Regions from separate parts of the Homo sapiens genome. Here all the other regions are linked to region 1. The links come from fine-mapping of genetic effects on gene expression. A gene starts in region 1. Each other region holds a variant in brackets. All regions are shown on one strand. Distances are from middle to middle. Region 1 holds the start of PLEKHA5 (pleckstrin homology domain containing A5). Region 2 overlaps PLEKHA5 (pleckstrin homology domain containing A5). Region 3 overlaps PLEKHA5 (pleckstrin homology domain containing A5).

The links. PIP is the estimated chance that this variant, and not a neighbour inherited with it, causes the effect. A credible set is the group of variants that fine-mapping cannot tell apart.
Region 2: its variant is the best candidate, but not a certain one, in a credible set for the expression of PLEKHA5 in monocytes after Pam3CSK4 (Quach 2016, PIP 0.73).
Region 3: its variant is the best candidate, but not a certain one, in a credible set for the expression of PLEKHA5 in whole blood (TOPMed, PIP 0.80).

What each region holds. Positions count from the first base shown.
Region 1 is chr12:19,126,955-19,133,071 of GRCh38, forward strand. PLEKHA5 (pleckstrin homology domain containing A5) reads left to right here and starts at 2,779. Exons shown (of 32, transcript NM_001256470.2): 1 at 2,779-2,934; 2 at 3,097-3,176; 3 at 5,439-5,496. The coding sequence starts at 2,846.
Region 2 is chr12:19,211,496-19,217,612 of GRCh38, forward strand. The region is part of intron 3 of PLEKHA5 (pleckstrin homology domain containing A5); the gene reads left to right. Among named protein-coding and RNA genes, the nearest start is that of PLEKHA5, 85 kb to the left of the region's middle. The variant TA/T (reference allele first, on the strand shown) is at 3,384.
Region 3 is chr12:19,363,788-19,369,904 of GRCh38, forward strand. PLEKHA5 (pleckstrin homology domain containing A5) reads left to right here. Exons shown (of 32, transcript NM_001256470.2): 30 at 2,177-2,322; 31 at 5,906-6,011. The coding sequence ends at 6,000. Among named protein-coding and RNA genes, the nearest start is that of AEBP2, 73 kb to the right of the region's middle. The variant A/G (reference allele first, on the strand shown) is at 3,657.

The DNA.
Region 1 (6,117 bases):
TCAAATTTTACCATGAGATTGTGGCATTTCAGCCCCATCTTCAGGCTCTATCTCTAATTCTAGTTCTCTTGCTATTTCCATATTTCTAGTTACTGCCTCCACTGAAGTCTTGAACCCCTCAAACTCATCCATGAGGGTTGGAATCAACTTCTTCCAAACTCTTGATAATGTTGATCTTTTGGCTTCCTTCCTTAAGTCACAAATGTCCTTGATGGCATCTAGAATTATGAATTTTTTCAATTTACTTTTTCCAGATCCATCCAAGGACCCCCTATCTCTGGCAGCTATAGCCTTATGAAATGTACTTTCTACATAATAAGACTTGAAAGTCACAATGACTCCTTGATCCATGAACTGTGGAATGCATGTTGGGTTAGCCAACATGAAAACAACACTAATCTCTTGTATGTCTCCAGGAGAACTCTTGGGTAAACAGGTACACTGTCAATGAACAGAAATATTTTGAAAGGAATCACTTTTTCTTTTCTTTTTTTTTTTTTTTTTTTGAGCAGTAGGTCTCAACAGCAGACTTAAAATGTTCAGTCAGCCATGACAGATGTGCTGTCATCTAGGCTTTGTTGTTCCATTTATAGAGCACAGGAAGAGTATATTTAGCATAATTTTTAAGGGTCTTAGAATTTTTGGAATGGTCAATGAGAATTGGCTTCAACCTAAAATCACCAGCTGCATTATCTCCTAACAAAAAAGTCAGCCTGCCCTTTGAAGCTTTGAAGCCAGGCATTGACTTTTCCTCTCTAGCAGTGAAAGTCCTAGATGGCATCTTCTTTCAATAGTAGGCTGTTTTGTCTACATTGAAAATATGTTTAGTGTATCCACCTTCAATGATCTTGACTAGATTTTCTGGATAACTTGCTGCAGCTTCTACATCATTTGCTGCTTCATCTTGCACTATTATGTTACGGAGATGGTGTTTTTCCTTAAATCCCTGATAGCTTCAACCTTTTCTTCTGCAGCTTCCTCAGCTCTCTCAACCTTCATAAGATTGAAGAGAGTTAGAGCCTTGCTCTGGATTAGGCTTTGGCTAAAGGGAATGTTGTAGCTAGGTTGATCTTCTCCCCAGACCACTAAAATTTTCTCCCTATCTGCAATGAGGCTGTTTTGTTTTCTTATAATTCATGTTTTCACCAGAGTAGCATTTTCAATTTCCTTCAAGAACATTTCCTTTGCATTCCCAACTTGTCTAATTATTTGACACAAGGCCGAGCTTTTGGCCTCTCTTGGCTGTTGATACATCTGAGCTTAATCGTTTCTAGCTTTTCATTTAAAGTAAGGGACATGCAACTCTTCCTTTCACTTGGTCACTTAAAGGGCATTGTAGGGTTACTGGTTGGCCTAATTTCAATATTAGGCCATTATTATTAGACAATTATTAGTGTTTCATTTCAGGGAATATGGAGGCCCAAGATGAAGCAGAGAGACAGAGGAACAGCTGGTTGGTGGAGCAGTCAGAACACACACATTTATTAAGTCCCTGTCTTACATGGGCTCAGTTCATGGTGCCCTCAAAACAATTTCAACAGTAACATCAAAGATCACTGATTACAGATCACTATAACAGGTACAATAATGAAAAAGTTTGAAAGATTGCAAGAATTACCAAAATGTGCCACAGAGACATGTAGTGAGCAAATGCTGTTGAAAAACGGTGCTAGGACTTGCTTAATGCAGAGTTGCCACAAACCTTCAATTTGTAAGATGTGAAAGATCTGCAAACAGCAATAAAGTGAATCGCAGTAAAACAAAGTGGGCTTGTACAGCAAGGAGGTTATACAAATATACTTTTGAAATCCTACAGCCAGTTTGAATCCAGGCTTTGGCAGTTATTACTATGACTGGGCAAACTACTGTGTTTTTAAACTTCATTTTTCCTATCTGTAAAATGGGGATTTTTTATAGATTGTGTGTGTGTGTGTATATATACACACACACACACACATATATATATATACACACATATATATATAGTTGTTGTGAAGATTTAAAAATGTACACCGTCACAAGGACTCCATAAAATAAGCTATTATTGTAATCTATTGGAGACAGGGCAAGTAAAAATCCACACTGATGTTAAGTGAATCTTTAAAAACAAGTACCAGAAAAAGACGAGTTTTTATTTTATAAGATATGACCTAAGGGGCCTAGGAAGAGAAAAAACTTGTTTTGTCAAGTCTAAATCCACTCATATTTCATGGGGCCACGTATCACGTCCAACCTTTGATATCTGGCACACAACAAACAAACAGGAAAGGCCTTTCGTGTGCTTTAATAAAAACAGCTTTCCATTTTAAAACGATAAATATATTGGAAAAATCTGTTGGCTCTCCAACAGCTCTTATAAAACAAAGCTCAGACGCTGTGTTTTTGTTGTTTGAAAGAGAGAAATCAGGGGCTTGGGCATTATTAGGCTCCCTTTGATCGCGCCCTGGGATGGGAAGCCTTCGGGCAAAGCCCTGGGGGCAGGACGCGTTTTTTTTTTTTTTTTTTTTTTTTTTTAATCGATCCCGGAACCTTCGCGCGGCGGAGGGGGCGGGCGCGCCGCAGGGGCCCGAGGGAGGGGTCTGGGGCGCGGCGCCGCTTGCCCATCCCCCGAGCGCGCGGCGGGGCGGCCGGCCGGCGGCCGCCGGGATGCGGAGGGGCGGCGACGGGGGCCGGACCCTGCCGGGGCGGCGGGGCGGGCACCGCCCGAGGGGGTAGGGCGCGCGCGGGGGCGCGCCGGGCCGGGGAGGCGCGCTCGCTCCGCGCTCCCTTCGCTCGCTCGTTCCCTCCTCCCTCGGCAGCCGCGGCGGCAGCAGGAGAAGGCGGCGGCGGCGGCTAGGGATCAGACATGGCGGCGGATCTGAACCTGGAGTGGATCTCCCTGCCCCGGTCCTGGACTTACGGGATCACCAGGGGCGGCCGAGTCTTCTTCATCAAGTAAAGAGCCGGGGACGGCACGGGGGCCCGCGGGGGCGGGAGGGCAGGAGGCGGGCGGCTGGCGACACGGGGGAGAGCCCGGGTCTGTGCTCCTGCAGCCCCTCGGCTCGCCCCCGCGTCCCCTCTCACGCTCCGTGTCTGCCCCTTCTCTCACCCCTGCAGCGAGGAGGCCAAGAGCACCACCTGGCTGCACCCCGTCACCGGCGAGGCGGTGGTCACCGGACACCGGCGGCAGAGCACAGGTAACGCCGGGCCCAAACGGAGTTGGGCTCCGCCTGGAGGAGGCGGCAGAGCCCGGGCCGCCCGGCTCCCCGCAACCTGCCCCGCGCCGCGGGCCCCGGGAGGCGGCGAGGCGGGGCGGAGGCCGGGCGGGAGCGGCCGCAGGTAGAGGGGCCACGGGGACTCCGCCGCCGGGAGTTCTCTCCAGTCTCGGGGCGCCTCTTTCTCCTCAGCCTTTCATCAGCACTTGGAGACGGCGCCCTCTTCCTGCGCCTTCTCCCCCCATCCCAGCCTAGACGACCCTCGCGACCCTAGAGTGGCGACGCTCCCCTCCCTGAAACCTGGAGTCCTGAGTTTTTCCTCCGCGGCCGCTACTCACTCCCCGGTGACCCCCAGCTGCCGTCTTGCCCCCCAGCAATCTTCAGGCAGTCCTTACCCACTCCCCTCCCTGCAGCCCCGGACCCCGATCGCCCGCCGGGATAACGTAACCACATCCTCCCCCTCCTCCCAGGAGCGCTGCCTCCTGCCGTGCAGCTTCCTCCTCCTAGGTGGGACTTGTGGGTAGGTGGCTGATGAAGGAGGAGGAGGAGGAGGAGAGGAGTTCGGGGGTGCTGCGATCCTCTCTGTGACAGGGAACGGCTCGGGAAACGCTTGGCGCGTTCCCTCCTGCCACGGGAGGAGCAGCCGGAGCCGGAGGAGGCGTTCGCAGCCTCAGTTGCTGGCGATCCGGATCTAAAGTCCCCGCCAGCCGCACGGAGGTTGCACAGACTGCCAGGAGGCGGTGGGCGTGCGAGGGGGTGTCCCGTATGGGGGCACCCGGGCCCTGTTTGGAGGGAGTCCGTGGGGAAGCGGCTCTCTCGGGTGGCTTTGGGAGCTTGTTTGAATGCTAAGTGTGAGTGGAGCTGGAAAAGGCTCCTCGTAGTTTCTGTACTGGTCTGGGTTTCTTTTATCATTCTTTGTTTACATTCGTGACTTGTTTGTCTTTGAAATGTAACATGTGTTCTCTTACTGGCCTGCCTCTAGTCCTGGTGATTGGAAAGGCTTGAGAGCAGTTTGGGTCGAAGGCGAGGCCAGTTTCAGCAGTCCTCAGAGCTGGCCTCTGGGGTACATTCTCTCGGACTCTGACATTCCGTGAATCTGTTAAAGTTGCCAGGATATTGAACAAACCTGCCTCTCTGTGAAATGCTGGAGTTCACTGAAGTGACTAATGTCTCCAAATTTGCAAAAAGGTGGAGGAAGAAAGGAAAGGCTGGTGTAGCAAGCATGATGAGCTTACATTTTTAAGGCATTTCTGACTAATACACTATCATGTTTCTCAATTCCCCGGTGCAGGCTTTTGCTTCAATATACCTTTCTGGTGTTTTACACGCATATTCCAACTTTGATGGCCTCTTTGCTTTTATGGATAATGATAGATTTATTTCATGAAAGACGATATGACATTTAAATTATTTAGACTAATTATCCTATGGAATTATGAGTGATATAAATAAGTGTCCTAGTTAACCCCACAGATTTGGTAACATTCACGCCACAGAAAAATTTTATTCTTTTATGTGATTTCACTTTTTTTTTTTTCTGGTTTGGTTTTACTTTGCTTGGACTCTGGTTTTGTACACACATCGGTTGTTTTTACTTCCAAGAGGCATTTTGATGAAATCCAAACAACTTGTCATTAATAATAATATGTAGCACATAATGACCATTGTTCACCTGAATCATCCCCAACTTTACTACTTGAAACTTCACGTCTCTTAGTCAAATTTTTAGAAACACACACGGAAGTATTCGGTGTCATTTCTTTTCCATTAATTAAGTAGTTAGGAAGTTCTGCCTTCTTTTTGGTGACACTTCCTAGATGGATTCATTTGTGTAGCTGAAAAATACGGTCTTAAATAGACACAATATACCCAAGAAGAGGCAGGCGTTGCCTGTTATACCCAGCTTTTTTTTTTGCTAGTCATTCATGAGTGTTCCACCTGGGATGAGAAGGCTTCCCTTTGCTTTCTTGGGTGCCAGAACATAGTTCCTCTCCACCCTAATATATTACAGTGTGTGCTCAGGTCAGATAATCTCTAATATTATGGTTACTTTTCTGGTGGCTCTAAATTTGAATTGCTGTTTTTCAAAAAATGATATCTGTTGTATTGCCAGCTCAACACTTTTTTTGTTAGTAATCTACTTAATTAAAACAGCTAATAAATGAAAATGGATAATTAAAATGGATTGAGACTTATTTTGCTATCATTGAAGTAATACTAATTGTAATATATGTATTGTTTTAGATTTGCCTACTGGCTGGGAAGAAGCATATACTTTTGAAGGTGCAAGATACTATATAAAGTGAGTTTTTTGACTTTCATTTTTTTCCTTCGTAATTAGAATGCTGTGATTACTCCTCAGCTGAATAGTTGTATGTCCAGTCTTGATCATGATTTTCTGAAGTTTATCATATAATGGTGACTGTATTCTTTATTTTGTATAGTGTCAGAATTTTGAGAGAAGAAAATGGCACTCTTACTTTTCTAATGTTATTTGCCTGGAATATTCATCGATTCATTGATTTGGAAATTAGATCATTTATGGCCACTTTTAAAAATAATTTTGTATCTTCGTTTTTTTCTTTTGGAATCGTCCAGCTTCATCAGAATATGACCACAATTACCTTTTTTTTTTTTTTTTTTTGGTGCTTCTGTGTATATTCCTGGGTAATAGAGGATTATTGGTCATTAGCTATGTGGTACTTAAAGTTTTGATCTTTGATTATCTGTGCTGAGAGATAACAAACAAAAAAAAATCTGAGTTACGTGAACATCTTTTTTTTTTTTTTTTTTTTAGTGAACCTTGTTCATGTATATTTTGACCAGGGCTGTTTATAGGTAGCAAAAGTGATGTAAAGCTAGGCACAATTTGATAAACAATGACGGTCAGGGAGTAAAAATAGAAATAGTTACTGAATATTTC
Region 2 (6,117 bases), 85 kb after region 1:
GGCGACCATGAACTTATTCTCCTTTACGGCCTATGGAATCCCTCTCAACACCTTAATATCTGCCCATTAAAACTGATTTTGGCATGAATTCTGGCCTCTAGAGCTGAAAGAAAATAAATTTCTATTTTAAGTCAATAGAAGATATCAAATGACCTAGTCACAAAAAAAATTTATTTTAAAGATCTTAATTGGCTTTTATTTGCAATTCTAGAATCAGATGAGACCTCATCCTATAAAACAGAATGAGTGTTGTGATGAGCTGAGCAGAGGAGGTTGGTTTTATTGACAGAAAAGGGCTGAAGAAAGCCGAAACAGAGAACAAAAAGCAGTTTGGTTGTTTTAAAGTTACTTACCTTTTTTAAAGTTTAAAGCAGGAGGTACTGCCTTATCATGCCAGCTAAAATTGGCCTGCTTGGGGATTTGGCTGTTATCTCCATTCCTCTCCCGATTTCTTGGAAGGTCAGATAAACAACTTGGTTTTGGCTTGGTGGTGTGAACTTCAGCATGAGTAACTCCATTTTGGTTTGGTCTGTTGAGCCTAGTGCAGGAGCTCAGTCCAAACCAATGAACTTCTATAAATTTTATTTAACGGAGGCTTGTATTAGTTTCCAATGACTACTGTAACAAATTACCACAACATTGGTGACTTTGGTAATTCAGTCACATCTGCTAAGTCTTTGTCACAGTTGGGATCACGTGGAATAATCGCTTGAACCCAGGAGGTGAAGGTTGCAGTGAGCTGAGGCGACGGCCACTGCCCTCCAGCCTGGGAGACAGAGCGAGATTCCATCTTAAATTTAAACATGGGGCAGCTATCAACCAAAGTCAAAAGAGAAACAAAAATATAAGGCATCTGTTAAAACATTACTTTCAAGTAAATGTAAGCAGGTTTTGAAAAATTAATTGGCTGCGTGTGGTGGCCCACGCCTGTAATCCCAACACTCAGAGGCCGAGGCGGGCTGATCACCTGAGGCCAGGAGTTCAAGACCAGTCTGGCCAACATGGTGATATCTCATCTCTGCTTAAAATACAAAAATTAGCCAGGCATGGTGGCGGGTGCCTGTAATCCCAGCTACTCCGGAGGCGGAGACACAAGAATTGCTTGAACCCAGGAGGCAGACAGGGCAAAACCCTGTCTCGAATAAAAGAAAAAAAGAAAAAGAAAAATTAATCCATGCTCATTAGTTTAGCTTTAATCTTAAATATTTATAACTTTTGAAATGTTGCATGACCAGTATGTTCATAAATTCATCAAACATATCCTCACAGCATCTACAGGGAAGATATCATTCCCATTTCAGAAAGAGGAAAACATGATGAGAGTGGGTTTTTTTTTGTTGTTTTTTTTTTTTTTTTAATTTCAGGCTCCCGGAGACTGTAAGTGGCAGAGTTAGAATTTAAGCCCAGATCTATGTAACTCCAAAATTCTTAATCTCTAAACTGAAGAATTGTTTTCAGTCTTGTTCCAGTACCTATACTAGATTTCCAAGAATTCAGACAACTCCTAATCTACCACATAGGGGAAATAGGGTCTATAAGAATATCATTTATGTCAGATAGTGAAACAAACATGAGATTATTTACACATTCCAGACCCAGGTGACCTAAATCTTCAAAGAAGGTGACTGATCCCTTTGGAGCAGGTGCTGCGTACAGTGAGAGAGAAGTATGTGTATTGTGTGCAGCGGCATGGATGGGGAACGATTTCTTCTGCCCAAGGATATGAGGGTGTGGGTGGCTTCTCAGAGCAGATTATGTCTGTGTTGGGTTTTGAAGGATGAATAGGCATTTGCTAAGCATGGTTTCTTTGAAAAAAAAAAATTGCTAAGCAGAAAAGCAGGGATGTGTGGCACTCTAGACAAGAGTGAACAGCAAGACCAAAAGATTATAGATGTCTTCAAGGAACAGGTCCTTCAGTGCTGCTAGAGTATTCAATGTGAGGTGCTTGGGGGCAGGGAGCACAGGCAGATGAGGAAGGCAGATCTGAAAAGCCTTGTATGCCATGCTAAGGAGCATAGACAATCCTGCAGGCTTTGGTGAGGGTCATTTTTAAGGGTTTCAGTAGGGGAGCAGAACAGGACAAATTGCATATTAGAGAAACTTGCAGCAGTGTGGAGGACAAATTGAAGGAGGAGGAGATAGGGCATAGATTCCTTAATGTTTGAAATAGTACAGTTGAAAATGGGACAAGGATTTTAAACTGTGGCAGTGGAAATAGAGATAGATCAATACAACGTAAGTTAAGGAGATGGAATGTTAGGTTTGATGAACTGGGATGGCAGGTAGCGAATGTGAGAGGGAGAACTGTTCTCTCTGGCATTTGAATTGTGTTTGAGATGAGACATTTTCAGGGGAAAAACAGGTTTAACTGGGAATGAAGATTGGACCTTTTAAGTTTGAAATGTAGATAGGATATTCTTTTTGTTGAGAAGCAAAAATTGGATATAGGGCTGTACACAACAAAATAATAATAATTATGATAATACTAATATTATCAGAGCAATAGATTTAGAATGTAAAGGTTTAGTTAAAACATCAATATTGTTATTGAATGATAAGGTTAATAAGGAATGGATTGAACCACTTAAGGATGGAGTGTGTAAAATGAAGTAGGTTTGGAGGTAGAACCATAAAAGAAACAAATGTCTAGCTGCTGTGTAAAGGAATGCTAATTCAGCAGAGCAGACCTAGCAGAAGTGATTAGCATAAAAGAACCAGAGGACTGAGATTAGGAAAACCAGGAGAGGGGAGTGTTAACTGTCTCAGGTGCTACACATCAGTCCTTTGAGATGCGGACCAAGAAGCACCTTTTGACTTTGTCAGTTAAAGAGACATCAGTGACCTTTGCTGAGGCAATAGGGAGAATAGAATTAAGATTACAGTTAATGGAGGAGGGAAAGAGGTGGGAGGGAGGAAGTGAGAAGTACAAATAGCCTTTTTGACTGAGAAGGAAAAGAGAAATTCAACAACATCAAAGAATGGGAGTGACTAAAGTGTGTTTTTCAGCTGGTACATAGGAGCCAGTAGAGAGAAAAGGTTGAAGATGGAGGGAAGAGAAGAACCAGTTGTTAGGACAAGGTGCCAGGGATGTTGGGAAGAAAACAGATCCAGCGACATATGATGGAGGGTGGACTTAACTACCCTAAGATTTGAGGGCAACAAATATTTGCTTGGGGCATGGGAGTGATTAGGATGGTGGCTTAAGGAGAGTGACAAAAATTTTAGAATAGCTGCTAAAGGGAGAATGAAAGCAAATGAAAGAGTTGTCTGCCAGATGGTGTTAAGAGCCCATCTGAAAGTGAAAACCATGAATTGTTCATCACATCATTCAATCTGCATGGGTAGATGCTGCCTTTCATTTGAAAGCAGCATATTTCTTTCCT[TA/T]AAAAAAAAAAAAATTGGCTGGGTGCGGTGGCTCATGCCTGTAATCCCAGCACTTTGGGAGGCCGAGGTGGGCGGATCACCTGAGGTCAGGAGTTCGAGGCCATCCTGGCCAACATGGTGAAACCCCGTTTCTACTAAAAATAAAAAATTAGCTGGGTGTGGTGGCGCATGCCTGTAATCCCAGCTACTCCAGAGGCTGAGGCAGGAGAATCACTTGAACCTGAGAGGCAGAGGTTGCAGTGAGCTGAGATGGTGCCACTGCACTCCATCCTGGAAGACAGAGTGAGATTCCGTCTCAAAAAAAAAAAATTGCTCTAAAATGTATCTGCTTACTAAAAACTATTTCTTCTTTTGCACTACTTGGAACTTCCTTGTCAGTTTAAGCTGGTTTAGGTTAGCCAGCTAGCCAAAAGTTTTTTTTTAAATGTAAAATATAAAAATATGTTATGAGTTATAAATAATATGGAAGCTATAATAGAATCCAGACGCTGAGTAACTATTTATTGAGTGTTTAGTGCTTTCTAGCATGCAGAAATGGCCAGGGAAATATGTCCTCTGACATGTTAACAGCTAACATTTTATCCTCATGTGTGTGGAGGTAAGGGGCGTTGCATATAGTAGTTTGGATAACAGCATCCCCTGTCACTTCAAGTTATACTTTTTAAAAATTGTAAAGCATTCTTATATTTGAAATCATATAATCATATTCTTCTGAGAACATTTCATAAAATAAGCCATATAAAGAGCCCTGTTCTACTCTGAGACCCCTTTAAAAATTTTAGCAGTTTTAAATTTAGTCTCAAGTAATTCAGCAAGTTTAAAAAAATTGTTCTAGCCAACAAGAGCTATAATAGGCACTTAATAATTGCCAACATGGTAAATATAATATCAATAGCTTGAAGAAGCACTGACTTTTGGCTTTCTGACTAAATTTGTGTCTCCAAAGGTAAAATGGTAATTTAACAACAAGTCAGCCCCCAACTTACAAATAAGATGTGTTAGAAAAGGTTGTATAATATTGAGTTGGGTATGAATTACATTTATTTTTATTGTTTTTTTCTAGAAAACTTAAAAGATAAGTGTAAGCAATAAAATATAGATAAGTTTAGAAGTAAAGAAAATCACAAAATACCGACTTGCTAAACATAGAAGTCAATAACATTGCTGTAATTGAACTTCAGTTTTAGCTCCGTTTCCCATTGTAAAAGGGAAATATAAGTTACCATGCTGTCAGAAAGAAGAGGCATTTTGGTTTATCCGGAGAGACAGTTTTTCCTTGAATAGAATTTCTCATGTGGGTTTTTATTTAGGAACACTGGGTGGTATAATAGACAATTTGCTGTACAAAATTTTTGCAGCTAAATAGGCAGGCTTCCTTTGGTTTTTTATTACAGCTGTCTTTGGAAAAAATCTAAGAGAGTAACATTGAACTCATCTTAATATAGGTGATTCTTAGAGGTCCTAAACTAATGTGATCCTTCTAGTGGTTAAATGTTCTGTTGGCCGGGCACAGTGGCTCATGCCTGTAATCCCAGCACTTTAGGAGGCCAAGGTGGGCAGATCATTTGAGGTCAGGAGTTCGAGACCAGCCTGGCCAACATGCCGAAACCCCATCTCTACTAAAAATACAAAAATTAGCCAGGCGTGGTAGCAGGCACTTGTAGTCCCATCTACTTTGGAGGCTGAGGCAAGAGAATTGCTTGAACCTGGGAGGTGGAGGTTGCAGTGAGCCCAGATCACACCACTGCACTCCAGCCTGGGTGACAGAGCGAGAATCCATCTCAAAAAAAAAAAAAAAAGTTCTGTTAAGGGCAGAGCCTAGACTACCTAAGGGATTCACTGCCTGGATGGCTGTGGGCTAAGAACCGTTATTAGGACAGGGAGAAAATGAAGGTGAGACATAGGTTTTTCCTATCATGTTTTCTTGTAAATGTGATTACTATCTTCCAGATCTACTACTGATTGTCTGCCTGCTACTGTTACCTCTTAATATGTTAAATATAACCTGGGATGCTTCTAATCCTTCTTTCCTTGACTCTCTCTCCAGAAAAAGTCCTCCATGACTTCTTTTCTCAATACTGTAATTACTGATGTAGTTATTTTGATTGTGTTTTATAGTCATAGCAGTGAGACTGCCTTACAACAATATTGTCTAAATTAAGTAAATGCAATAGCCAATATTAGACTGGTTTTGACCTTCAGAATGGCAACGCCAAGGATTCATCCCCATGTTGTAATTATGATTTTTAAACGTATTATAATCAAAAACACAGTATTAAAAGGGATACATGGGGTTTTTCAGTCATGCAACAAATATTTTACTCTGTGCTCCATAAACACCTACTATGTGTTAAGCATTATTCTCTATGCCAGGGAGATGATTGATATGATAGTAAACAAGAGAATTACACGTGTGGAATGCAGTTTACTCCCAGAAAGGGAAAGATTGAATAAAGCAGTAGGTTACCCAGAATTGCAGAAATATTTAGGCACCAAGGAGTAATGGAAAGGCTAAATATGTACAGGATGATATATGTGATAGGAGCTTGGCATACGGCCTGAGCACATAAATGCTTAATAAATTTTAATTGTGCCAGTTGCTTTTGTTGCTGTCACTATGCCAATTGTGGGATAAGGTAGGGATGCAAATCAGAATAAAAATGTTCAACAGGTATGAATAAAAATACAGCCCATGAAGGAAGTTGGAAAATTAGTCCAAGTAGGAAAATTCTC
Region 3 (6,117 bases), 240 kb after region 1:
AGCCTTAACTGGCCTTAAGAGTATATCTTCAATCTTTCCCTCCATTAAACATATTACCGGCACTAGAAAACAGAAATGCTGTGGTTTACTGTTATTAGGAATGCCTTGATTTCTTAAATGAATAGCAAGATTGAATTTGAAAAGTATTTGGCAATGTCTGCTAAGAAAAATATCTCTGCTGAATTTTTGTATTAAGAAGCATAGATTAAAACACAGTATATTAAAAATTGATGAGTTCATAATGATACAACAACAAAAAAATTACTTGTTGGCCATTTTGGAGGATGCTAGAGAATCAACTTTTAATTCCAAAACTTGGTACATTAAGGGAAAGGATCAAGTATTTATCATGTTTTTTTCCCAAATTGTAACCAAATAGTTTGAGGAAACTTATTTTTAGAAGAATTTCAAGTGGGAGTCAGAGTATCATTGTTTTGTGGCAGGGTGCAGTGGCTCGTGCCTGAAATCCCAGCAGTTTGGGAGGCTGAGGTGGGCAGATCAATTGAGGTCAGGAGTTTGAAACTAGCCTGGCCAATAATATGGTGAAACACTGTCTCTACTAAAAATACAAAAATTATCCGGGCATAGTGGTACATTCCTGTAATCCCACCTGCTTGTGAGACTGAGGCACAAGAATTGCTTGAGCCAGGGAGGCGGAGGTCTCAGTGAGCCGAGATCCCGCCACTGTACTCCAGCCTGGGCGACAGAGTGAGAATCTGCCTCAAAAAAAAAATATATATGTGTCATTGCTTTGCTAGCCCTAATGCCATAATGGATTTGAACAATATTCCTCAGTGGCTGCCAAAGCTATCAGCTGAAAATCTGACAAGGATCTTTATATGAATGGGTCAACCCAATAACCCCTGAACTCACTAATGTTTGTTTTTTTTTTGAGACGGGATCTCACTCTGTCGCCCAGGCTGGCGTGCAGTGGCGCAATCTTGGCTCACTGCAACCTCTGCCCCGCCGCCCGATTCAAGCAGTTCTCCTGCCTCAGCCTCCCAAGTAGCTGGGTTTATAGGCGCCTGCCACTGTGCCCGGCTAATTTTTGTATTTTAGTAGAAACAGAGTTTCACCATCTTGGCTAGGCTGGTCTTGAACTCCTGACCTCATGATCCTGCCTTGGCCTCTCAAAGTGCTGTGATTACAGGCGTGAGCCACCGCGCTCAGCCACACTGATCATTTTTAACATCACAAAAAGAAACAATCTGTTAATGCAATAGTTCATGACACCCACCTAATGAAGTGCTACTTGCCCCTCCAAAACCTAAATTTGAATAAGCCTTAAAATCATATAACTTTGGCCAGGCGCAGTAGGTCACGCCTGTAATCCCACCACTTTGGGAGGCTGAGGTGGGCAGATCAAGAGGTCAGGAGATCGAGACCATCCTGGCTAACACGGTGAAACCCCGTCTCTACTAAAAATACAAAAAGCCGGACGTGGTGGCAGGCGCCCGTAGTCCCTGCTACTCGGGAGGCTGAGGCAGGAGAATGGTGAGAACCTGGGAGGTGAGCTTGCAGTGAGCCTAGATCGCGCCACTGCACTCCAGCCTGGGCGACAGAGTGAGACTCCGTCTCAAAAAAAAAAAAAAAAATCTTATAACTTTATAGAAAATCCTGAGGGATACAATCATCAGAATCCAGAATGTGATAAACTATATAGGACAGATAGACCAAGTTCTTTTACATATAAATGGCAAAGAATAAAAGGGATCTGGGGCAGTTTGTTTTGGATTAAAGTAGACTTTAAGGAATTTGTCAGGCAATATATGGACCTTGTTTGGATCCTGATTCTAATTCTAAAATGACATTATGAGGCACCAGGAAAATTTAAGCACTGACTGGATATTTGATGGCATTAACATATTAAAAATATGTTCTGAAGTACTTACAAATTAAATATCATATGTAGAATCTGCTTTAAATGGTTTAGGGAGCAAGGATTTTAGGGCTTAGATGAAGCAAGATTGGCAAACCAAGTAATTATTGAAATGAATATACAGGTTTATTATTTGCTCTAATTCTTTTGTTTGAAACTTTCAAAAGAAAGAAAAGATTAATTGTAAGAAAATGTTCGTTGTTAAACATAGGTGGTGGCATCTTTTATAACAAAAAAAAGAAAAATTAATTGTATTCTATAGTGACAAATTTTTAAATACCAATCTATTTTCATCAGCCCTCAAGATGAAACACAGACCGCAAATCATAAACCAGAAGAGCATCCTGAAGAAAATACAAAGAACAGTGTTGACGAACAGGAAGAAACTGTTATTTCTTACGAATCAACTCCTGAGGTTTCTAGAGGAAATCAAACAATGGCAGGTAGGTAGTATACACTTCATAATTTTCTACCTGGTGCTTCCTCTGAACTTCTAAATTTATTTTCCATGGGGAGATTCTAAGAAGGGAATCGCTTAAGTACCTTGACTACAGATGAGTCAACGTTTGCCTCCCCAAGTGTACCTTCAGGAGGATGCAGCCCCTGCCAGAGTCTACCCTGGCAGAGGGATCAACACATTGGCTTTGGTTTTGCTTTTTCCTTTCAATTTTAACACATAGAGTAAACTTTTTCTAATAAAATCTTTTGGCCGGGTGCGGTGGCTCACACCTGTAATCCAGCATTTTGGGAGGCCGAGGCAGGTGGACCACGAGGTCAGGGGTTCAAGACCAGCCTGGCCAAGATAGTGAAACCCCGTCTCTACTAAAAATACAAAAAATTAGCCGGGCATGGTGGCAGCCACCTCCAATCCCAGCTACTCAGGAGGCTGAGGCAGAGAATTGCTTGAACCCCAGAGGCGGAGGTTGCAGTGAGCCGAGATCGTGCCACTGCACTCCAGCCTGGGTGACAGAGCGAGACTCCTTCTCAGAAAAGAAAAGAAAATCTTTCAGTACTTGGAAAATCTATCTGTTCTCAGGGCTAGATTCTCAGAGTATTCACAAGCCTGCCACATTGGGAACTGTGGAGGATTTAATATCTAAACTAATAGAATGGGTTTGTTTACTCCAGCATTGCTATAATCCATACCTGGCTGTTCCTTCAATTGTAGAAAATTATTATCCATGGCATTTTAAAAAAAACAAGTTGTTCTGTGCTCTATTCTCTCATATTTTTTGGACTCTTCACAAATCTTTTCTTTTTTTTTCCTGGAGGCAGAGTACTCCCTCTGTTGCCAGCGCTGGAGTGCAGTGGCGCTATCTTGGCTCACTGCAACCTCTGCCTCCCTAGTAGCTGGGACTACAGGTGTGTGCCACCACACCCGGCTAATTTTTTGTATTTGTAGTACAGATGGGGGTTACTATGTTGGCCAGGCTGGTCTGGAACTCCTGACCTCCAGTGATCAGCGCGCCTCAACCTCCCAAAGTGCTGGGATTACAGGCATAAGCCACCATGCCCGGCCCTTTTACTCTTTTTCTTTATGATTTTTTGGGAACAGGGATGGGAATTAGTGCATATTATCGCTTTGCTTCTTCTTTTTTTTTTTTTTTTTTTTTTTTTGAAGCTCTTTCACCCAGGCTGGAGTGATGTGGCGTGATCTCAGCTCACTGCAATCTCCACCTCCCAGGTTCAAGCGATTCTCCTGCCTCAGCCTCCCAAGTAGCTGGGATTATAGGTGCCCACCACCACGCCCAGCTAATTTTTGTATTTTTGTAGAGGC[A/G]GGGTCTCGCCATGTTGGCCAGGCTGGTCTTGAACTCCTGACCTCAGGTGATCCACCCACCTCAGCTTCCCAAAGTGCTAGGATTACAGGCGTGAGCCACCATGCCCAGCCAGCTTTGCTTCTTTTTTATTTTATTTTATTTTATTTTATTTTTGAGATGGAGTCTTGCTCTGTTGCCCAGGCTGGAGTGCAGTGGCGCGATCTCCACTCACTGCAAGCTCCGCCTCCTGGGTTCATGCCATTCTTCTGCCTCAGCCTCCTGAGTAGCTGGGACTGTAGGTGTCCGTCACCACGCCTGGCTAATTTTTTGTATTTTTTTTTTTTTTAGTAGAGATAGGGTTTCACTGTTAGCCAGGTTGGTCTCAATCTCCTGGCCTCGTGATCCGCCCGCCTCGGCCTCCCAAAGTGCTGGGATTATAGGCATGAGCCACTGCGCCCGGCCCAGCTTTGCTTCTTGTAGTCCATAAGTAAAAAACCATTCCTACAAAACCCCGCCACCACTCCTGCCCTTTTGCAGAAGAGTAAGAAACAATGAAATTCAAGTATTCAGGACCATTCTTCTTAGGAAAAGCATGGGGTTCTGGGCAGAACATCTTCCGTATCTTATATAAATATAACGTGTATGTTATAAATTTAAATAAAATAAACTTTATTTAATTTACTTATTTAAAATAAATTATAAATTTATATTACCAGTCATGTTCCCTTGTAACAAATACTAAGCACTGCCTTTTCCTTTGCCTCTGTCACTTACAAGGCAGTATGAGCTGGGTGCAGTGGCTCACGCCTATAATCTCAGCACTTTCGGAAGCCAAGGCAGGAGTATTGCTTGAGCTCAGGAGTTCAAGACCAGCCTAGGCAATGTAACAAGACAACGTTTCTACTAAAAATAATGCTTTTAAAAAATTAGCCGGATGGGATGGCACTATAGACCCAGCTTCTCAGGAGGCTGAGGTAGGAGGATCACCTGAGCCCAGGAGGTTGAGGCTACAATGAGCTGTGTGACTGCATTACTGCTTTCCAGCCTGAGCAACAGAGCAAGACCCTGTCTCAAAAAATAAATAAATAGCCAGGCACAGTGGCTCACGCCTATAATCCCAGCACTTTGGGAGACTGAGGCAGGTGGATCACCTGAGGTTTGGAGTTCGAGACCAGCCTGACCAACATGGAGAAACCCCGTCTCTACTAAAAATACAAAATTAGCCAGGCATGGTGGCCATGCCTGTAATCCCAGCTACTCAGGAGGCTGAGGCAGGAGAATCGCTTGAACTTGGGAGGCAGAGGTTGTGATGAGCCGAGATCACGCCACTGCACTCCAGCCTGGGCAACAAAGAGCGAAATTCTGTCTCTAAATAAATGAATAAGGTAGTGTGCACAGGAGGTCTCACTTGTTAAAAAAAAAATTGTCACTGGCCAGTTTTGGTTATTATGCAGCAGGTCTGGATCAAAGTGTTATGATAGTATTAAAACCACAACATTTAAATCATCCATAGTATTTAGCTGCATAGAACTAAAAAAAGTTCCAACAGAAAATTAACCTCAAAGCAGAAAAAAAAAATGTAAAGTATTTTTTTTGTTTGTTTGTTTTTTGTTGTTGTTGTTGTTGTTTGAGACAAAGTCTTGCTCTCTTGCCCAGGCTAGAGTACAGTGGTACAATCTCAGCTCATTGCAGCCTCTGGCTCTTGGGTTCAAGCATTTCTCCTACCCCGGCCTCCTAAGTAGCTAGGACTACAGGCACGAGCTACCATGTCTGACTAATTTTTGTATTTTTAGTAGAGTCGGGGTTTCACCATGTTGGCCTGGCTGGTCTCGAACTCCTGACCTCAAATGATCCGCCTGCCTCGGCCTCCCAAAGTGGTGGGATTACAGACATGAGCCACCACGCCCAGCCAAAAAAAAAAAAATTTTTAAGTAGTTGTCAGGAAATATTTTATACTGAATAATTAGATTGCAAATTAGAAAATAACAGGCTGGGCACATAATCCCAACACTTCGGGAGACCAAGATGGGAGGATTGCATGATGCCAGGAGTTCAAGACCAGCCTGGTCAACATGGTGAGACCCCATCTCAATTAATAAAAATTTGTTTTTAATTATTTAAAAAGAAAAAATCACAATAGAACCAAATGTATCTATTACTTCCTTCTCAAAACATGTTCTAATTTTTGTGGGATTACAGCATCAGGATTTACTTCTCCAAATGTGTCTTAAAGATTTTTATCTTCTCCCATTTTCTTTGTGTGTTTTAGTGAAAAGTCTGTCCCCATCTCCTGAGTCCTCGGCATCGCCAGTTCCATCCACTCAGCCGCAGCTCACAGAAGGATCACATTTCATGTGTGTGTAGTCTTAGAAGAAGTACGTCATTTCCCTTTGCATTTGTGCTTTAGTTTTTTACTTGAATTTTATGACTTATCTGTTGGTTTAGTGAATCAAAACTGGGATTAGTTCTGGACTGTACATA